Linked DNA regions of Homo sapiens. The protein of the gene in region 3 interacts with the protein of the main gene of each other region in a biochemical or structural test. Each region holds a gene or a part of one and is shown on either strand. Other genes may lie near its edges. The genes, in order: IPO5, ATP8B1, NUP153, XPO7 and TPR.

Evidence for each region.
Region 1: the proteins of NUP153 (region 3) and IPO5 form a complex in vitro, tested with the Homo sapiens proteins (one study listed by BioGRID).
Region 2: the proteins of NUP153 (region 3) and ATP8B1 interact in a surface display test, tested with the Homo sapiens proteins (one large-scale study listed by IntAct).
Region 4: the proteins of NUP153 (region 3) and XPO7 form a complex in vitro, tested with the Homo sapiens proteins (one study listed by BioGRID).
Region 5: the proteins of NUP153 (region 3) and TPR form a complex in vitro, tested with the Homo sapiens proteins (one study listed by BioGRID).

What each region holds. Positions count from the first base shown.
Region 1 is NC_000013.11:97,956,675-97,961,328, reverse strand, and holds part of IPO5 (importin-5), read right to left. Parts: intron 983-4,654; exon of another isoform or gene 926-982; intron 1-925. UniProt on the Homo sapiens protein: Functions in nuclear protein import as nuclear transport receptor. Serves as receptor for nuclear localization signals (NLS) in cargo substrates.
Region 2 is NC_000018.10:57,663,348-57,668,001, forward strand, and holds part of ATP8B1 (phospholipid-transporting ATPase IC), read right to left. Parts: intron 3,821-4,654; coding exon 3,745-3,820; intron 1-3,744. UniProt on the Homo sapiens protein: Catalytic component of a P4-ATPase flippase complex which catalyzes the hydrolysis of ATP coupled to the transport of phospholipids, in particular phosphatidylcholines (PC), from the outer to the inner leaflet of the plasma membrane.
Region 3 is NC_000006.12:17,613,757-17,617,605, reverse strand, and holds the end of NUP153 (nuclear pore complex protein Nup153), read left to right. Parts: intron 1-910; coding exon 911-1,079; intron 1,080-1,424; coding exon 1,425-1,509; 3' UTR 1,510-2,569; downstream 2,570-3,849. UniProt on the Homo sapiens protein: Component of the nuclear pore complex (NPC), a complex required for the trafficking across the nuclear envelope. Functions as a scaffolding element in the nuclear phase of the NPC essential for normal nucleocytoplasmic transport of proteins and mRNAs.
Region 4 is NC_000008.11:21,999,206-22,003,859, reverse strand, and holds part of XPO7 (exportin-7), read right to left. Parts: coding exon 4,555-4,654; intron 4,325-4,554; coding exon 4,186-4,324; intron 1,749-4,185; coding exon 1,588-1,748; intron 642-1,587; coding exon 543-641; intron 1-542.
Region 5 is NC_000001.11:186,333,019-186,337,672, forward strand, and holds part of TPR (nucleoprotein TPR), read right to left. Parts: intron 4,139-4,654; coding exon 3,995-4,138; intron 3,677-3,994; coding exon 3,478-3,676; intron 2,526-3,477; coding exon 2,320-2,525; intron 2,112-2,319; coding exon 2,050-2,111; intron 1,516-2,049; coding exon 1,307-1,515; intron 377-1,306; coding exon 104-376; intron 1-103.

The DNA.
Region 1 (4,654 bases), on a different chromosome or scaffold from region 3:
GAGAAAAGACAACATATGTTGACACAAAAACTTGTACATGAATGTTCATGGCAACATTATTCACCACAGCCAAAAAGTGGAAACAATTCAACTGTCCATCCACTGGTGAATGGATAAACAAAATGTCTTCTAACTATACAAGGAAATATTACTTCGCAATAAAAGAATAAAGTAATGATACATGTAACAACATGAGTGAACCTTAAACTCATTAGACTGCCTGAAGGAAATCAGACAAAAAGACCACACATTTTTTTGGTCCCACTTATGGGAAATGTCCAGAATCAGCACATCCATAGACAGTAGATTGGTGCTTGCCATGTGCCTGGGCATGGGGTGGGTAGGGGAATCAGTGAGTGCTAGCAGGTATGGAGTTTTCTTTTAGGGTGAGGAAAGGGTGATAGTGATGAATGTGCAGCCCACTGAATATACTAAACACTCCATTGTACACTTTAGAAGGTTGAACTTTAGGCTGGGTGAGGTGGCTCATGCCTGTAATCCCAGCACTTTGGGAGGCTCAGGCGAGTGGATCACCTGAGGTCAGGAGTTCGAGACCAGCTTGACCAACATGGTGAAACGCTGTCTCTACTGAAAGTACAAAAGTTAGCTGGGCGTAGTGGTGCGCGACTGTAATCCCAGCTACTCAAGAGGCTGAGGCAGGAGAATTGCTTGAACCCAGGAGGTGGAGGTTGCAGTGAGCCGAGATCATGCCATTGCACTCCAGCCTGGGTGACAAGGGTGAAACTCCATCTCAAAAAAAAAAAAAACCAAATAAATAAAATAAAAAGTAAAATTTGGACTTTATGGTGTATGAATGTCTCAATAAAGCTATTATATTAAAAATACATTTCCTTAGAGAGCTGAAGGATATTGATTTAGACCTCAATTAGTGATTTTTTCCCCCTATCATTCACAGTATTTTTACCTTAGTTCTGAATCCTTGAGTGATAACCATTCATAACCTTCAAACTTCGGAGAATTCCTAAACCAATATTTGTGGAGAGGGAGAATGGGGAGATTCAGATATGATTTGGTCTGTAGACTTTCCTTCCCATCTTTTTGCTACTTACAGCAAGTATCTTACAATTTGGACACATGACATACACATTTCACCTCCTGCATTGTGAGGACATACATAATGGAGTCTGAATTGTGACATCGATCTGCATCTCATAGTTGGAGCTATTGGCAGCATGGATTTTTAGTCATCCACAGTTAATGAGGAACAAATGAAAGGGACCTTATAATGGTTCATAGGCTTCAATTCCATGCATCCTATGTGTAGTACTGCTTGATGCCACATTTAACTGCAGTAGTATTTGTTTAATGAACATTTTCTTCATTCATTTGTTTAGAAAAATATTAGGCACCCCTCTGTGGGAGGTGCTGCTAGGCTGTGGGGATTCCACGGTGAGCATGCGGACAGGGTTCCCACCTTCAGGGAGCTTAGCTCTTTTGAAAGAATTCAGATAATAAACAAGTAAACTGATAAGATACTTGCATACAGTTATAGGTGAAAAAAGAAGATAATGGGATCACGAATGACTGGATTTGGAGTGGGGTCATACCCTAGGGACACAGTCTTTCTTTTCTTTGAGACAGAGTCCCAGTCCGTCACCCCGGCTGGAGTGCAGTGGCGCTATCTAGGCTCACTGCAACCTACGCCTCCCGGGTTCAAGCAATTCTCCTGGCTCAGCCTCCTAAGTAGCTGGGACTATAGGCGCCCGCCACCACACCCGGTTAATTTTTGTTTTTTGTATTTTAGTAGAGACGGGGTTTCACCATGTTGGCCAGGCTGGTCTTGAACTTCTGACTTTGTGACCCACCCGCCTCGGCCTCCCAAAGTGCTGGGATTATAGGCGTGAGCCACCGTGCCCTGCCGGGACAGTCTTTTGAGAGGAGGTGACAATGAAAGATGAGGCAAATAAAGAAATGGAGGAGGCTCTCTCAAGCAGAGGTGACAATACGAAGGACAGAGGCAAAAACAAGTTGGGGTATTCCAGAAAGGAAAGAAGGGGATAGCTAAAGCTGAGAGGGTTGAGAGGCCAGCAGAGGCCAGATCACCCAGGGCACCCTGATAGTTCAGCAGCATGTTCTGCTACTAGGGCATTGTGATGGTTCTGTAGTGTGACTTGTTCTCTCTCTTTTTTTTTTTTTGAGACACAGTCTTGCTGTGTCACCCAGGCTGGAGTGCAGTGGCGTGATCTTAGTTCACTTCAACCTCTGCCTCCTAGGTTCAAGCAATTCTCTTGCCTCAGCCTCCCGAGTAGCTGGGATTACAGGTGCCCGCCACCACGTCTGGCTAATTTTTGTATTTTTAGTAGAGACGAGGTTTCACCATGTTGGCCAGGCTGGTCTTGAACTCCTGACCTCAGGTGATCTACCTGCCTCAGCCTCCCAAAGTGCTGGGGTTACAGGTGTGAGCCACCGTGTCCTGCCTCTTGTAGTGTGACTTGTCCTAGGGGAAAGGGGAATCTAGTGGAGGGTTAAGAAAGAGATCTGACCTGAGAAGCTTTCAACTTTCAAAGATCATCTTGGCTGCAGTGTGGGGTGGGGTGGGATGGGGCTTGGACTGAGGTGGTAGCAATCAACAGTGTTCACTGTTGTGTGGTCGGTTTTAGATGGTTTTCTTTTCTCTTTCTTTCTTTTTTTTTTTTGAGATAGTTTTCTTTTGGAAATGAGCTGGACAGAGGGTGCAGAGGCCGATCCAAGGTTTGTGAGGCCTAAATCATACAGTTTGAGGGCCTTCCATAAGAAAAATAAAAACTAAACACAAAATGAGATAGAGGACCCTGCAATGGGGTAACACAAAATGAGATAGAGGGTCCTGAGCAAAGGAGAGTCCCTGACACTTAAGCTTCTGGAATTTCTTGATGAGTCCTCTCCCGATGGTGGGGGTGAGGTCGGGAGAGATCAAGAATGCCCAGGTTTTGTGACTGAGCAACTGATGATGCTATTAAGATGAGAAGGAGGTGTTTGGGGTAAGGTCTGGAGAGAAGAGCTGGGTTTCCTTCGTGGCACTTTTGTGGGACACAGGAAACAGCCACGTGGCTGAGGATAGAGGGACAATGGAGCCCAGGAAGAGGGCAGGGCTGGAAATGGCAAGCCATCACTTTCATGGCATTTAAAGTTGTGGAAGTGGATGACATCAGGTTGGGAAGAGAGAAGAGAGCCAAGCAATCAGCTGCAAGACAACTCCACCTGAGGCCAGGCCCTGGAGGTTTCTAGTTTATATATAGTCCAAATATAATAGTATATTTAACATTAGTCACTTTAAGTTGTAATTCTCTTTTTCTTTCTGATTGCAAGGGTTTCTTTCTTTACTTTTTTTTCTGAGACAGAGTCTCATTCTGTCTCACTCTGTCACCCAGGCTGGAGTGCAGTGGTGCGATCTCGGCTCACTGCAATCTCCACCTCATGGGTTCAAGCGATTCTGCTGTCTCGGCCTCTAGAGTAGCTGGGATTACAGAAGACAGGGTTTCTTTAACATTTAAGGAATCCACTGATCTACTTCTGAAATCTTCAGAGATAAAAAAGAGAAGGAATCCACTAATGCATGTAAGGATAGTGGGCTGAACAAGTAGGCCCTAATGATCAGAACAAGTCAATTAAAAAAATTATTTGATCAAAGAATTGTTTATTTTTATTGTTTTTATTTTTATTTTTTCTTATACTTCAGGAGTAGTAGGATTTACTTTGTGCCAAGGAAATAACTAGTTTTCTCTAAATTGTCTTCAAGCATTTAGGCCTCCTACCAACTAATATAATTCTCTACCTCTCACTTAGAAACATTGTTTAACAATATGGAATGATCATTTAAAGAACTTAGATCAGGCTGAGTGCGGTGGCTCATGCCTGTAATCCCAGGACTTTGGGAGGTAGGTGGATCACCTGAGGTCGGAGTTCGAGACCAGCCTGGCCAACATGGTGAAACCTTGTCTCTACAAAAAATACAAAAAAAAAATTAGCCAGGTATGGTGGCGCAGGCCTGTAGTCCCAGCTACTCAGGAGGCTGAGGTGGGAGAATCGCTTGAACCTGGGAGGTGGAGGCTGCAGTGAGCTGAGATCACGCCACTGCACTCCAGCCTGGGCAACAAAATGAGACTCAGTCTCAAAAAATAGAAAAAAAAAAAGATGTTAGATCAAACTAATATTAAGAGGTCAAAAGACCATCTTCCTCCCATCTTAATCTAAGGATTTTTCTAGTTTTGTTTATACACTTAAGTTTTCATTTGAGTATTCAGAGAGATAATAAACCCTACCCTTTTAAAGAATGTGGGAGGGAGTGGGAAAAGTAGGAATGCGTTTTAAGGTCTATCTGCCATGTAAAATCAGCGATATTGGACCCATGTGATAAGAATGCTTGTTTTACATGGCTTCAGCTATCCATAGACCAAGCATTTTCTCTTGAAACATAGCTACATTTAGAAAATCTTAATACAGCTTAAAATAGGAATTTTGGTATTTGGTCCCGGACACTACCACCAGAAAGGGATCCCATTATGTTATGATGCTATTATTCAAGCTGGTTGGACTCAGTTTGCAGAGACTCCTATTTTACAAATCACTTGGCTTGTGTGAATTGACTATTTAGTGGCTGTGAGATTGAGGATAAGGGCTAAATCTTTTCTAACAAGAGGACTATTTAAAAACC
Region 2 (4,654 bases), on a different chromosome or scaffold from region 3:
GTTGCGTCCATCTCTTGGCTGCTGTGAACAGTGTTGCTGTGAACATGGGTGTGCATGTATCTCTTTGAGATCCTGCTTTCAATTATTTTGTGGATATACCCAGAAGTGGGATTGTTGCATCATATGGTAATCCTTTTTGAAATTTTTTGAAACATCACCATACTGTTTTGCATAGTGGCTGCACCATTTTATATATTTCATCAACAACACACAAAGGTTCCTTCAACAATGATTGTTATTTTCTATTGTGTTTTGTTTTTGATAGTAGCCATCCTAAAGGGTGTGAGGTGTTATCTTGCTTTGGTTTTGATTTATCTTCCCCTAATGATTAGTGATGATGAGCCTCCTTTCACATGTTTATCAGCCATTTGCATGTCCTCTTTGGAAAAATGTCTACTCAAAGTGCTTTGCCCATTTTTTTTTTTTTTTTTTTTTTTTGAGGCAGAGTCTCGCTCTGTCACCAGGCTGGAGTGCAGTGGTGTTATCTCAGCTCACTGCAACATCCACCTCCTAGGTTCAAGCTATTCTTCCACCTCAGCCTCCCAAGTAGCTGGGACTACAGACGGGCACCACCATGCCCAGCTAATTTTTGTATTTTTAGTAGAGACAGGGTTTCACCATGTTGGCCAGGATGGTCTCAATCTCTTGACTTCATGATCCACCCGCCTCAGCCCCCCACAGTGCTGGGATTACAGGCATGAGCCACCACGCCTGGCCAGCCCTTTTTTTTTTTTTTTTTTAACTGAGCGACATGTAATTTTACTATGTCTCGATTCATCCACCATGGGGGTACCATGTAATTCATCATTTTTCAAAGACAGTCAAAGGAAGATACAGTTGAAAATGTATACACAGCAACAGAAGAAAGGCAATCTTAGGCCAGGCACTGTGGCTCACACCTGTAATCCCAGCACTTTGGGAGGCTGAGACGGGCAGATCAGTCGAGGTCAGGAGTTCGCAGCCAGACTGGCCAACATAGTGAAACTCTGTCTCTACTAAAAATACAAAAATTACCCAGGCGTGGTGGCGGTGCCTGTAATCCCAGTTACTTGGGAGGCTGAGGCATGAGGATCACTTGAACCCAGGAGGCGGAGGTTGCAATGAGCCAAGATTGCACCACTGCACTCCAGCCTGGGTGACAGAGTCTTTCTAAGAAAAAAAAAAAAAAAAAAAAGGAAAGGCAATCTTGATCTGAATTAGAATACTGGCTATTGTTTGTTAGGAATAAACTTATTTTCATATAAACAAAACTATATCTGTGTTTGAGAAATTCTCAGTGCTTTATATCAACAAATTAAATGTTTGTGTTAAAATGATATATGTGACAAGGCTACGTGTAACACTTTCATGTGATAGAAAAATGAGTCATGAAATTTTGGAGTGGAAGGGACCTTAAATATCTTGTCCAATCTCTTCATGTTACAAATAAGGAAATCAAGCCAGAGGAAGGTGATGTGATTTGCCTGCTGCAGGTTGATAGGAAAACTAGAATGAGGACTCAGTTATCTTGTAACTTCTGGCTCAGGACTCTTACTATTACATACAAAAAGCCATTGTTCTTCTCCTTCCAAAGAAGGCTTCTCAGCCTTTGCACTCTTGATGTCTTGGGCCTAATAATCCTTTATTTTGTGTGGCCATCCCTTGCACTGGAGGATGTTTAGCAACATCCCTGGCCTCTACCCACTAGAAGCCAGGAGCACTTCTCTGCAGCTGAAACAAGCAAGTGTCTCTGGACAGTGCCAAAGGGTCCCTGGAAGGCAAACTCACTCCCCACGGAGAATCACTGCACTAGAGGATTAAGTATCTAGTATCCCTTTTCCACATCAATTTAATTCTCATTTTCAAGTTAAAAGTGAGTGACTAAGACAAATCATTGAAAGGCCGTAAGAGAAAAAAAATGAAGATACCTTCTATTCAAATCATTTTATAGGAATCATCAATTTAAGAGCCACCTGGGAAGATGATTCCTCTCTCTATAAAGGTAAACTCAGCTAAGGGCATGGTCACAACATTTGCTACTTGCATACATTTTATCTTTTACTTTAGCTTCGGGACCAATTTTTAAGACTTTCAAAAGAGAGACCAGAAATTTTTTTACAGCCCCATCTACAAAAAATAAACAAAGCCATATAGTAATTAATCAGATTACTTGAAGCCCAAAACTACTAAAGTAAACTCATTAAGCATTAAGCATTTATTTGTCTGTTGCTACTTTTTTTTTTTGAGACGGAGTCTTGCTCTGTCACCCAGGCAGGAGTGTAGTGGCACTATCTTGGCTCACTGCAACCTCTGCCTCCCAGGTTCAAGCAATTCTCCTGCCTCAGTCTCCCGAGTAGCTGGGATTCCAGGCACATGCCACCATGCCTGGCTAATTTTTGTATTTTTAGTAGAGACGGGGTTTCATCATATCAGTCAGGCTGTTCTCAAAATCCTGACCTCGTGATCCACCCGCCTCGGCCTCCCAATGTGCTGGTATTACAAGCATGAGCCACCGTGCCCAGCCTGTTGCTACTTTTTTAAAACCTAAAAGCACAAAGGGGCATGGCTTATGTACCTCTATTTGGGCACATAAACTAAATCAGTTCTAAATGGAACTGATTTAGATCATAAGGCTACTGATTTTGTCTAATTTGACGGAATACCTAATATACTAGAACAACTAGAAAATGCTTTATCACCATCATTAGAAATAAGACTAATATTGACCATCAATTCCCTCATCACTTTATCACACCTGGCAAATGTGTATGTTAACAGTTTAATCTGACCTCATGCTGGCCTGAGAGAAGCTCTGTAGGGAAAAATCTTGAGGAACTGTCAGGCCATCAGTAAACACATCACAGTAACTGTGTGCAGCATATTTATAGCTTCAGAACAAGACAGGGCTTTTTCATCATACATTTCCAGGTCTGCTGCGACTCTGATTCAAAGCTAACAAACGTTTCAGCATATGCTAACATTTGAATTATCAGGCCTGCCCCACCTAGACTAGATTACAGGGGACCTACATGATGTAACCCACCCACACATTTCCTTCCCGCAAAAGTTTTGGGTTTTTTTTTTCCTTTCTTCTATTTCCCTTTCAAAAGTAAAAGTTCCTAGAAAAAGCAAAATAGGACTATAATTCATATTAATTTGCTAGCGATATTACAGGCTTTTTACGGAATTTTTAGTAGGTGAACCGAGTTTTTTTTTTTTTTTTAATGAGACAGAGTTTCACTCTTGTCACCTAGGCTGGAGTACAGTGGCGTGATCTTGGCTCACTGCAACCTCTGCCTCCTGGGTTCAAGTGATTCTCCTGCCTCAGCCTCCCGAGTAGCTGAGATAACAGGCACCGGGCACCACACCCAGCTAATTTTTGTAGTTTTAGTAGAGACGGGGTTTCACCATGTTGGCCAGGCTGCTCTAGAACTCCTGACTTCAGGTGATCCACCCGCCTCGGCCTCCCAAAGGGCTGGGATTACAGGCATGAGCCACTGCGCCTGGCCTGAGCTGAGAAGGAATGGAGAAAAATGGCCTCTGAAGGGCCCCAAGTTTCCCTAAAAGTAAAATCTGCTCAAATTTAGGCTGCACCTTGATTACTTGGAACTGCCTGTTGTTGTCTTGCCTCATTTAAACATGAGGAAACTGCCCCAAGTGACACATCGTAACCCCTATTTCTTCATATCTGCTATCTTCTACAGACAGTCTTGCATTTGCAAAGATGAGCTATTACGTAATTTCATACTGCAGGCTTTTACTCACTTAATATCCTCCCCATAGCAGATGGTGGTGTCTTCAGTCAGAAGTTCACAAGCAAATCCTATATTTTCAGCAGTTTCTACAATAGAATAAAATTAAGTCAAATGTCATTCCTGCTGTTTTTATTTTATTTTATTTTGTTTTTTGAGACAGCATCTCACTCCCACTGCCTAGGCTGGAGTGCAGTGGCACAATCTCTGCTCACTACAGCCTCAACCTCCAGGATTCAAGTGATCTGCCCATCTCAGCACCACCCGCAGCCCCCAAGTAGCTGGGACTACGCAACTCGCTGCCAAGCCACCAAACAATTTGTGTTTTTTCTAGAGATGGGGTTTTGTCATGTTTGCCAGGCTCATTCTTACTGTTGAACTGAATAATTGATTTTACCTAGTAATGATATTTTTTAGTTCATGAACATAACCAGATTCACACAAACACACTATTTTTCTATAGCAATCTGTAGGAATCACATGCAGAAGAAAAATCCTTTTCTCCATAATAAAACAAGTGAAAGTCAAAGTCTAATTTGAAATGTTTTCAATAATAAAATGTGCTATATTATCAAACATATAAACTGGTTATTTAGTAAACCAATGTTCATTAAATTACTAAACACTCTCAGTTCCTGGTTCAATTACTCTGTTATTGGCGGGGGGCGGGGGCAGAGGGAAGCATAATAATTTCCACCAACCCTTACGTGAAGATTTTTTTTCCTTTTAAATTACCACCCAATTTGGCATTTATTTAAGGTCAGGGCTGTGCTTCCCATAACTTTGCAGAGTGTGTAACCCGTTGACGATTTCAGCGCAAGAGACATTATTTGATTTCTTGTGGAAGGCTTACAAAGTAAAGTATCAATACCAAACAAGTGCTTGTTGAGTTCTAAAGTTAAAAAATTAAAATCGTTCTTTCC
Region 3 (3,849 bases):
CTCCCAAAGTGCTAGGATTATACGCATGAGTCACTGCACCCACTGATAATTACCATCTTTGTGTTGGTGTTGGGAGGGATTGATTCTGGGTATCTGCTTCTAAACATACTCTGCCATCCTTTTTTTTTTTTTTTTTTTTTAATTCCCACTACATCCTCACTTCCATAGGTATCTGGAACCTAAACATTTTGGGTATGTTTGGTGTAAATGCAATTGCTTCTGTTCTTTCCCTACTGCTCGTTTAGTATCAACTCTAGTCAGCCTTCCAGCTTCTAAACCTATATCTTTGTAAAAATCCCTTGTTGTTTTAATGCACTTTTCAAAGAAGATAGAGCTAAGTGTATTTGTTGATTTCACTGTCTTTAACCATAAGTCCAGGGTGCCCTTTTCCCCTTGGTCATAGGTAAGTTGTGTGATTTGTTGGAGGTGTCAAGTATGTACTATGTGTCAGTGGAGAAAATAGTTTTCTTTAGATTAAAAGACCAGAATATTTTAATTCTTTGCATGTTTTTATATGTAAAGGTCAGAGTCTTTAATTTAAAAACCTATCATGTTGCGGCCGGGTGCAGTGGCTTACGCCTGTAATCCAGCACTTTGGGAGGCCGAGGTGGACAGATCACAAGGTCAGGAGATCGAGACCATCCTGGCCAACATGGTGAAACCACGTCTCTACTAAAATACAAAAAATTAGCCAGGCATGGTGGCACGCACCTATATAGTCCCAGCTACTGGGGAGGCTGAGGCAGGGGAATCACTTGAACCCAGGAGGCAAGGGTTGCAGTGAGCCAAGATTGTGCCACTGTACTCCAGCCTGGGCAAGAGAGCGAGACTCCGTCTCAAAAAACAAACAAACAAACAAAAAAACCTATCATTTTGCCCTAATGAAGTATTTCTGCTTTAACTATTGCAGGTTCGGCTTTCCAGTTTGGCAGCAGCACTACAAATTTCAACTTCACAAACAACAGTCCATCAGGAGTGTTCACATTTGGTGCAAATTCTAGCACACCTGCAGCCTCAGCCCAGCCTTCAGGCTCGGGGGGCTTTCCATTTAACCAGTCTCCAGCAGCATTTACAGTGGGGTAAGAGAATTTTTTATTGAAATGGAGAAGTTACATTGGTAAGGGTATGTGCATGTATATGTTTTGTTTTTAAAAGTCATCAAGATTCCGTATGGTTTGGGTAAAATTAAATATGTTCTCCAACATAAATTTACCATACTATAATTCTGGAGGATTATATTACAGTTTGAGAAAAAAATAACAGTAGCGTGTGTGTTAGGTGTAGCAGAAAATGTATATACCAATGTGAGTCTACTCCCCCCCCACCCGACCCCCCTTACCCTTGTGCTGCTCATGGTAAATGTTAGCATTTGGAAATTTTGCTCAGAGCATCATGTCACATTATGAAGTTTTTATTTTTCACAGGTCAAATGGGAAAAATGTGTTCTCTTCTTCTGGAACTTCATTCTCTGGTCGCAAGATAAAGACTGCTGTTAGACGCAGGAAATAAAGGTCACATTGGTGTTGTACTCAATTTTAACAACAGCTGGTGCCCTGCTTTCAGATACTGGATTGTACTTTGTGCTGGGGTTATCTGAAGTCAGATCTGCCTAAGGACTTCTTTAATTTTGGAATTTTCCTCCTTTCTCTTTCGTTACAGAAGCCCCACCCTGCCTCACCCACCCTTTTTTAAATAAATAAATAGCTAGACTGGTGACTGATTCTTCAGCAAAAATATTTTATGATCCAGCAGATTATTCACTGATTTGACATAGTCTGGCTGTACCCAGGAATGGAGCCTGCACGGTGAATGGCTTTGTATAGAACCTCTTTGTCTACACCATTATGTGCGCTGATAAGCGTTCATGGAACGCGTTGAAATTGTAATTATATCTGAGGAATTCTGTATAGATTAGAATTCTGTATAGATTAGAGAGTGTTGAAACGGATGATTTCTATGCTGAGTTTGTGCTGGTGTATGTGTGAAGTGAGTGAGTTGGGTGTATTGTGCGCTAAACTTTTCTGATAGAGGAAGCCTGATTAAAGAATGGTCCGTGCTAAGGACTTGTTAGATCTAGTTCACTCTCCATTTAATAATTATATGCTATTTCTATATTTTCATTCTCCTATCACCTGTCTTGCCTTTTTCATTATTTTATTATGAAACTTGTGTAAATACAATTTTGTTTCTGTACTTTTTGGCATAACATAAATCTGTGAACTTGAAATTTGAATTTTGTGTTAGAGATTTTTTTGTTGTTTGTTTAGTCTTGTCTCAGATTTTATTATGTAAATCCCATTATTCAAAGTTGCCTAAATCCATTTGGAAATCTTTAAAAAAAAAATTGGGGATTCTTAAAGTTGAATTTATTGGCTTTTCTGATCCAGTTTTGTTTGGACCAAAAACCAGTATTGTACAAAGTATTAAGCATATATTTTTATATTTACTAAAATGGACTGTGGTGACTTTGGATAATAAGGAAAAGTTTAATATTAAAGCCATGTTTATTACAGTATAATTAACATGTTAAACCATGGGATAAATGCCATCAATAAAAAATTATGACATACTTTTTGTTCTAGTTTTACCTCATAATGAAGGCACACAGTATTATTGGGGGGACTTTGTAAAATAAAGATTAACAGTGTCTCATTAGAAGAATACATTGACATGATTTAGACAACTCCTAAGAGAAAGGGAAAGTATCTGAAAGTATCTGAATGCACAACATATAGAAGGTACCCTACTTCTTGCCTGGTGCTAGGAATCATGCCTAATTTGCATATCGACTTAGGTACCTTTTTTAAAAGTTGAAAATACACACATTCATTTCTCTTTGTGCTTCTATCTTCCTTGGTAAGTTACTGGATAGTGTTTATTAAAGTTCTTGGAAATACATACACAAAAACTACAGTTGTCTCTTGGTGTGTGCAGGAGATTGTTCCCAGAACTGCACTCCCCCCCCCCCCCAGTTCTCCCGCCCCCAAACCACAATCCACAAATTTCAGCAGTGGACCCTGCAGAACCTGAGTATACCAAAAGCCAGCCCTCCGAATGTGCAGGTTTTATATCCCACGAATACTGTGTTTTTGATCTGTTTTTGGTTGAGTTAAAAAAAAAAAAAAAACCCGTGATAAGTGGGCCCACGGTTCAAACCCGGGTTGTTCAAGGGTCAGCTGCACTTTCTTTTGTATTATTTTACTGCATTCTTTTTTTTTTTTTTAAACTGGATTCCCATGGTCCATAAAAGAGCTCTTGGAACAATATTTGGTAATTTTATTTTTCAGTTGGAAATGTACAGTTATTTAAATTGTGCTCAGTTTTAATTTACTGAACTTCTGGTTGGTTGGAGTTTATGTTTTTCCAAGACGGAGTCTTGCTCTGTCGCCCAGGCTGGAGTGCAGTGGTGCGGTCTCAGCTCACTGCAACCTCTGCCTCCTGGGTTCAAGCAATTCTCCTGCCTCAGCCTCCTAAGTAGCTGTGATTACAGGCGCCCGCCACCATGCCCGGCTAATTTTTTGTGTGTATTTTTAGTAGAGACACGGTTTCACCATGTTGGCCAGGCTGGTCTGGAACTCTTGACCTTGTGATCCACCCGCCTCAGCCTCCCAAAGTGCTGGGATTACAGGCGTGAGCCACCGCGCCTGGCCTGGTTGCAGTTTAAATTTAGAACTCAAGGTATTTTTCTTACTTGAGATATTTTAGTCCATCATCAAATGCTGGTTGGGGGTAGAAATTTTGCTTTATTAGCAGTATACATTTGACACCTGTTGAGGGGGCAAAATGTGATGAATACTGGAAGAGGTAACTGGGAATTTGTGTCTTACTGCTGAGAAGTTAATTCTTACT
Region 4 (4,654 bases), on a different chromosome or scaffold from region 3:
AGGCAGATTAGCCCTCCGTCATCTGCAGGGTTGAAGAATGTTCTTCTCTAAGGAGGAATGGAATGTCTACTAAAATTGGACCCTTAAAAAAGAAATTCAGGCAAGCACTTGTGGGATAATATGGCTTCATCCTACTAAGAATATCAAGAATTTTTAAATTGTAAAGCACTTTAAAAGGGTCATCTTATCCAGACCTTTCTTTTACCAGAATCTCAAGACTTGTTTATAGCAGAGCTAGAACTAGAACTTAGGTCTTAGGTCCTCTGATACCCAGGTACATTATTTCCTTGAAAGGTTTCTCTTACTGCCTAGGGGAAACACTCCTTTATCCTGTGTCTGTGAGCTACCACACATGCTGACTTCTAACAGTTAAATGATTATGTGATACTGAAAGCACAAATGGGACTTGCTCAGTAAATGACCCATTTTCCCTGTTTCACCACCGTGGGGTGTTTCTATACACATTTCTCCCAGGGCTTGGTGATACCAAGTGCGTGGTTGCCACTGCTTCTGGGTTGGCACCAGGGAGCTGGCTCTCTCACCTTTTCATTAAGCAATATCAAGCCAAGTAGTGGTCGGGACATAGACCACTGGTTCCTACAGTCTTCAAAGATGATGATGTTCAGCACCGTGGACAGCATCTGAAAATGGAATGGAGAATTTCAGGCAGTGACCTAATGTATTGCTACCCAAGATAAAACGACAGATTCCAAATACAGGAGTATATTAGGCTGAAGGCCTTTTCTGTATAGGGTAAATCAGACAAATAGTTTGTGAAGCTTCATCTGAGTCTTCTATTTCAAGGTTACCTTTTCTTCTAAGATATTCATTTCCTTTCTTGTTCTTAAAATTGGTTTGAACTTCACTTACCAATGGATCTTTCCAGGTCACCCTGAGTTGTGGGGAATGGGATGGGGTCACGTAAACAAAATTACAGTAAGCAAAACCACCTTGCATGATCCCTTCCAGGTACTCGGAGTTGACAGCTTTATGACATCTTGTGAATGTAATGGAGTCCTGAATTATTTCACTGCTTCTTTAGAGAACGGTGTGGACAAAGGTAAGACTGGCTAAAATCTCAATAATTACTGATCCCATTTCCTTATCTATTTTCATCTAGCATGTATTTCTGTAAGTTACTTCAAGGCACATACAAATAAAATAAGGGCAAGCATATGGTTTGATCTCTCTGTGGCCAGTTATTTCCTTCTGTCTTGCATTCTTCTTCCTGTTTTGTAAACAGGAACACAAGCCTTTAGAAAGCTGGATGCTGCTAACTCCTGCTCTATTTATAGCAGTGGGTGAGCAAAGTAATTTTCACAGAAAGAGGATAGTGATCATGAGACAGGTCCAGGGCATAGGGATCACTGTGACACTCAGAAGAATAATCCAGAACCTGAGCGTTTTCTACATCCAGTGATTACTTGGCAAACTCAAAATCCACTGCAACTTTAAGACACGGACTTCATCTCAGCAGCAGGAACCTGATGAGATGTCATGTTAATCGTGTGTGGGCTCCCCTGTCTTGCAGAGGTCCTTCCTCTGTCGGACACCCCATCACTGCCTCCTAAGCCTCCACTTTCTTACCTGCTGGATCATCTCTGGATGCTGCTGCATGATGTGCAGAAAGCGGTCGCTCTCCTGGTTCAGGGGTGTGGTCCTCTTCTTGGTGCTACGTGACAGCTGCTTGAAGAGGTATGTCACAATGTGGTCCAGGCAGGAGCAGCAGCCTGTGCATACCATGGTGTCTGCAAGAAAGAAAGGCAGGGGTAGGACAGAGCTGCTGATGGTGGCCTGGACAAATATGGACTATCTTTGGGTGAGATCCATTAGGGTACCGTGGCCAATTCAACCAAGGCGGTTGCTCAAGATGACTCCTGTTAACCTCTTAACCTCATTGTACAGTAGGGCTCAATTTCTAAGTTTGAAAGTGAGTATGTGGTAATAAAGAATACTGAAATTATCGGCTCAATGTGTTGTGGATGTACGTACATCTTCTGCCTCACACAAAATAACAAATAGTTTGATTCAGCAAGTGCTTCTTTTGTGCCAGATGTTGTGCTAAGTACTTTATAGGTGTTATCTCTAATTTATCCTCTCAAGAACTCAGGAATTAGGTTTTCTGTTTTACAAATGAGGAAACCAGAATTAGGAGAGGTTATGTATCGGCCTAAGGATCAACTGCTAGTAATTGCAGGAGCTGTGATTAGAATCCAAGAAGCCTGGGGTATGAGCCTATGCTCTGAGTTACCAGTGGGATGTAATTAAACCCAGAATGACGTAGCCCCTGAATGTTTATGGTTTGTTAGAACACGGTATGCTGTATTATCTGTTTATCTCCAAAGCATCTCTGGGGGGAGCTGCAGACTCATCTATGCGTCTTTACAAAGGGAACAGTACAGCACAACCTGTGGACAGAACTCTGATGAGGTAAGGCCAAAGGACAAAGGGGCTGAACCCTTAAAAGAGTAAACAAGTCTCTGATTCCTACGGGACTGATAGTTTATGCAAACGTCCCTCTACTTGCTTTTTCTTTCTTTTTTTTTTTTTTGATACGGAGTCTCGTTCTGTCGCCCGGGCTGGAGTGCAGAAGTGGCACGATCTCGGCTCACCACAGCTTCTACTTCCCGGGTTCAAGTGATTCTTCTGCCTCAGCCTCCAGAGTAGCTGGGACTACAGGCACACACCACCACGCCGAGCTAATTTTTGTACAGAGACAGGGTTTTGCCATATTGGCCAGGCTGGTCTCGAGCTCCTGACCTTGTGATCTGCCCGCCTCAGCCTCCCAAAGTGCTGGGATGAGCCACCACGCCCGGCCAGGTCCCTGTATTTTCAATAAGACATAAAAAAGTCTTCCAAAGCAAGGGCTGATACCTTGATTGGACTGTACTAGATACGGCTATGCACCCTGATAGACTGATAGAAGTAAATGTGTATCAAAGTCGCACAGAGGCATGGATAATTCACCACAGTTGACAATCCAAAAGTGTATTTGCAACATATCATCACTATTTGGCAGTTGACTTAATCCTCCTACTTATGTTTTGCTCAGCCTAATATAAAAATGTGTTTTATTCTCTGAACACATATACCTACTAAGATTGTTGGGCCAGGCACGGTGGCTCATGCCTGTAATCCCAGTATTTTGGGAGGCCAAGCCAGGCGGATCATGAGGTCAGGAGATTGAGACTATCCTGGCTAACACAGTGAAACTCCGTCTCTACTAAAAATACAAAAAAATTAGCCAGGCATGGTGGCGGGCGCCTATAGTCCCAGCTACTTGGGAGGCTGAGGCAGAAGAATGGCATGAACCCGGGAGGCAGAGGTTGCAGTGAGCTGAGATCGCGCCACTGCACTCCAGCCTGGGCGACAGAGCGACTCCGTCTCAAAAAAAAAAAAAAAAAAATTGTTGGAAGGTAGCCTAGAAACAAAATGGTTGACAGAAACCATATGGACTAGGATGAAAAAACTTATGGAGCTAGCTGCATGAAACCTTTCCCCAGCTTCCACGGCCCTCAGGACAGAATTCAAACAGCCTAATACGGCTTACAGGCGGGCCCCCTTCATGATCTCCAGATTTGCTCCTGCTTATCTCTAAAGCTTCATTTCATTCCTAACTCCTCTGGACTAGTGTGCCAGCCATCTGGATTTCCTGGTTCTTTCTTGCCTACAGGTGCAAGTGCTTGCTGTCTCTGCTGCTAGGAACCCTCCCTGGCTAACCAGGGTAACATCTGTCCAGCTTTTAGGTTTATGCTTTGATGCCAAGTCTTCCAGCCAGTCTTCCTTGATCCTGACTTCCTCACAACCAAGAGTCTAGGTATTCTTGAGGGCTTGTGTAGCACTTTGTACTCACCCCTATTGTAATGTTTAAGTGGTAAGTATGGTAAACAGGCAGTTGTTTGTTCATGTGTCTGTTCTACCCACCAGATAAGCCCCTTAAGGACAGGGACTATATGCTGTTAATTACCGTATCCTCAGTGCTTCCACAGGGCCTTGTACTTAGGAAGGGAATCAGTGAGTGTGTGCTGGATAAGCATGTGCTGTGCATTATATACTCTATTGTTATGGCCAAACCCCCAAGGCAGTGGTGATCTTTTTGGACACTGGGGCAAGATTCTCTCTTTCTGTTTAGTTAAGTGGTAAAAAACAAACCCACCAACTCACCCACCCACCTCAGGTGCTTACCAAGTGCAGTAAGTCCTTCAGAAATGGAAGAGAGAATATACATGATGACGTGAGGTTCCAGGCTTGCAATAAAGTTCATATGGTCCTGGGTCAGGACTTCCAGTAGTGAATAATAAGACTGGCTGAGCTTGGGGTAATCCTGTGGGAGAGGAAGAGGAAGAAAATCAGCTTAGGCACTATGCACTCCAGCATGCAGGGAGACGATCTTAAATAGCTTAGCTCCTTTTAGGTGGGAAAACAGAAGACTTAGTTAGAGCAAAAGGAGCTAGCTTACATAGTTTCTCAAGAGCAGTGTTCAATCTTGGTCTCAGGTGAAAAAGGCTGAATGTGATGAGGAACAAGATTGTGGCAATGCAGCGTAAGGCTTACCAAGAGATCACTGTGAGGAATAGAGAGGAGCAGCTTGATGAAGGTCTGCAGAGCATTGTCCAGGGCATCGTCTCCATAGAGACGAAAGACTCCGAAATTG
Region 5 (4,654 bases), on a different chromosome or scaffold from region 3:
CTTCATTTGTACAAAGAATACTCAAGATATATATACTCAAGATACACTCAAGATCTTATAAATGCATAGGTCTACTCTGACTTCATTTTAAAATTAATTTTACCTGTGCCAAATACTGCTGTGGAAGTAGAAGGCCGCTCAACTGGTGAACTCTGAACAACCTCTACTATGTTTGAAGATAACTCTTGATTGGCAGGCTCAATCTGAGGATGACTCTGTTGAGTGGGTTGCACAAAAGCTGTAGCCTGTGTTTGTTGCTGAACAGTTAAAATAGGTTGAGAGATAGAAGGCTGGACATTAGGACTAGTAGAACGAACGGATCCACTTGTGCTTCCAAAAACTGGAACATGTTCCACAGGCCCTTCTGACTGCATAGCTGAAAAATAATTATAATGCTGAATATAAGCCTTCTACTTTTATCAAAGCTGAAATTATCCTTCCTATTCTGTGGTACATGTCACCTTTCACACAGATTTGGCACTTGGTAGACAAATACATTGTAGGTAAAGGTAATGTATTATGCATTTTTATATTCCCTATGTAATTGATATGGTAGCATGCAATAAAATGTTGCCTGAATTAAATAAATATCTGTAACTGATTTTGCATCTATTCATTTAAATTACTGTTGAATAAAATTAATGAAATTAAGCTCAAAGTAAAATTAGAATTTTTCATTAAGCATCATTTAGTTTTTAATTGATATAACAGATAGTAAATTTGATTAGTAATATATTTAGTTTATTGGATGTAGCTGAAATAAAACATTCTCTACTTTCACAGCACAGAAATACTTGAATAATTTACTGAATTCTAACATTTGTCAAGATAAGAATCTAAGGAAATATGCAGGTAGCAAAGTTTTACTGAACACCTACTGTGGAGTTAGGTAAAGGGATTAAACAATAAGAAGCTGAGATTTTTGCCCTTGAGGAGCTCAATGTAGTGGAGTAAAAAGCATGTATACCACAGAATAAAATACAAAGTTGTAATTGCTGTAATGAATAACAAGAGTGTCATGGGAAAAAATTGAAGAAAGCAATGAAATGGTCAGTTTCAGTGAGAAAGCAATGTTGGATTGAGCCAGTAATTCAGTATGATTTTCCAAAGTGGATTTCATATATTCTTTGTCATTACAAGTGAAAATTTTGGTCCTAGAAGTATGTCCTTCAAATATTAAACACCCATTTTTACAATGACGTGACTTCAGCTGTAGTGGATGCTTCATTTGTCTTTGAAATTACTGTCATCTTCTCATAATAAATCTAAATAAGCAGTCTCATCAGATCTGTATTATTTTACTAACCTTCCTGTGATTCCACTTGTGTAGTGGGCATCACTGTAGCTGTTGGGGTAGTAGTGGGATTTGTAACAGTTGCAGGTGTAACCATTGGGCGGATACTAGCCCTGGGTGTTGACTTATTTCCAGCCATAGCTGCAGCTGTCACTTTACTTGGAGTAGACACAACAGGAGTTGGCTTGATATTGGCTGTTGGTGGGTCTGATGTGCTGGCACTTATAGAGGAGAAAATGGAAGAATAATTAATAACAAATTATTATGCAAATACTTTTAAAAACACAGTGAGTATAGGTCTCCATTTTTTTGTTCACTAAATATTTCAGAGCCTTATTAAAGCTGTTTTGAATTTAAGCATTAAAAACTACACAGGGAATGCTCCAGAGTGGTGCATCCTGACAATGTAAAATGTATCTAGCTGTTGAATTGCTGAACCCAAGTCTCAGCCCAGCATTTTCTATCTGTCATCATGTAACATCACGGGGAAAATCAGTAGCAGCCTAACTTAGAAACCAACTGTAAACTAAAAGATGAGAGACGTTTTCTCTGTCACAAAGCTTCATCTGATAGGACTGAAAGTATGGTGAAAACAAGCTGGCAAATACATGATACAGTTCTGCAGAGAAAACAACTCTTTAGTGTATGTTTTTACAATAGAATACACAGATTTCTTTTTCCTAAACAGAAAGATCACTAGATATTCCCTGAGCTTTAAAAGAAAAATAACAGACTATGAAATAACTAAAACTCACATTCCTCTTTCACCAGAAGCTGGAGTTGTTTTCAATGTGATCTGTCTCTGCTGTTCAGGGACCTATAAAGAGAAAGCTCTTGATTGTTGTTCCTAGCCCACAAGAGTCCACTAAAAATGCCACAAAAAAATTGTCATTATTGTTAATTCTCTCCGCATATATTGAATTTTAGCCAAAATTCACTGACAAAGGCTCCTATATCACCAAGCACTTTCAAGTAAAATGTACAAAGAAAAACAATTTGTTACTTAAGCAGAATTAGCTAATCACCTTATTAGAAGGTTCTTGAGGCTCATCTCTCTGCTCAAGGTGTCTCTCTTGATGCTCCCTGAGTTCTCTTTCCAAGCGACTAATTCGACCTTCATATTGGGACTTTAGCGCAGTAATGCGAACATCCAATTCATCTTTCTGCTGATCTAAGGCTCCATTCCTTTGTTTAAGCTCCTCATTTTCTTTAGTTAGCTGATCTTTTACACCTAAAGAAGTAACCAGGCGATTATATTAATATTATAATCAAACATTTAAAACAGCATTTATGCACTTAATTGGCACATGGTCACATCAGATTCTACTACTATAACATCTACATTAGTTATGATACATCATACATCTCAATGAGCAAAGTTCTAAGTACATTCATGCTTTAACTTATTACTAGAATATAAAATATACTTACTCCAACATAAAAATTTACTTTTTCCTAACTAAAATCTCAAAAAGCTAAAGATCCTAGTTAACAGAAGCCCGTTTATATTTCAATGTATCATGCAATTCATTACTATGAATTGCAAAATTTTTATTTCATATAATCTACAGCACTGTTTAAAAATAATTCAAGAACTTTTAAAATCAAGTAAGTTGTTAGGACACTGTCTTAGAGATCATTTTAAAAAAATGCCTGTAACAAAATCCAACTGATTTGACATTTTATTTAACTACTCAGCAGACTGATAGGCAAGGCTGAATAAAGCCCTGAGCCTTGAAGAACTAGGTTCTTCATAAATTTGACATGATACTCTCCCTGAAAAGCTAGAGGGGTCCTCCACCAAACGAGGCACAAAAAAATCCCTGGGCTGGTAAAGATCTTTATGCAGTCTACATAAGGTTTCTAGACAGCACGGTCTGGGCTCAAAGGATCTCTGTCACAAGATAGAATTGTTATCCATGAAAGCAGAAGGATAGCAGTATTCCATTATCTACTGCCAGCCAACAATTGAGAAAAATTTCATCATATCAAGGATATCCTCATCACTTGAAAATTAGGATTGCTCTTTGTGTCCAACTAATTATTCCTAATATTTAAAGCACACATACACACACAAACACCCTTCATAAGTAGATACCTTTTATTTCTATTCCATTTAGTTTTAGGCCTGCAACACATAATCAACTTTCACTACCAAGTTCAAACTTTAAACAGATATTTACCAGCTAAGTGTGCAATTTTTGACTTTGCTGCTACAATAGCCTTTCTGGTTTTTTCTTCCTTTTCAGTTATCTGTTGTCGGAGCTGCTCCTCCTGTGTGGTTCTATCTTGAAGATCCTGACGAAGTCGTGAAAGTTCAGACTGAAGTTGCACAGTCTGTTCCTGGAGATTTCTTGCTTCTGTCTCTTTTTCAGATAATGTCTTTAAAGGAAAACAAAGTATTCACCATGGAATTCAATCATTTCAATATAAACTGTATGTGGTAGCAACTTAAAGTATAACTTATTAATTTGCTTTTTAAAAGATTAAATGGAAGTATAAGTATAAAAATGGTGGTCAGACCAACTAAATGCACACTTGAAGATGATTGGGTACTACTTACATACATGAGCCATTCAAAGTAAAAAGAATAAAATGTATCCATTCCCACATGGTAAGACAAAGTGTCAGTAGTTAACACATATTTCTTTAGGTGTATAACAGGAAAGAATTAGGAACAGACTGTTCTCACACTCATACCTTCTGCAGATTCTCTACTTGACTTTCAAGTGATTTTGATTTTGTTTCAGCTTGGTTGAGCGTTTCTTTGAGTTCCTGCATTTCCTGGACTGAAACATGCTGCTCCTGATGGTCTCCAGAGGACTGAGCCGATGTCTCCATAACCTAAGACAACAAACAGTAATAATACACTCACATATTTATATTCAGTAATTCCATTTCTGCAAGTTTGTCTAAGAAAATAATCACAGCTTTGCAAAGAAATTTTATCCCTGAAGGTATTCAAAACAGAATTTTCTATGAAACAACTGTAATCTCCAAAAATGGGGAACTAGTTATGGTTTTCCACATAACTGAATACTAAACAGCTAATCAAAATGATGCATTATAGTTGAATTTTCAACACTTAACTGTATTTTCATGATAATGAATCAAGTGAAAAAAGTATACAAAAGAATATAAGCATATAATATTATTTCTTTGGAAAAACGTCGCTTACATGTATGAAAAGGGATACTAATGTACTAATAGTGGCTAAAACAAAGGGGTATTAATTGTGAATTTTTTTTCTTTATATTTATTTTCTAATCCAACATGAAATAAATACATAATTCTCAACATACAAATTCCTTACCTTCAGGAATTAAAAACAATATTTAGATTCAAAATATAAATATAACA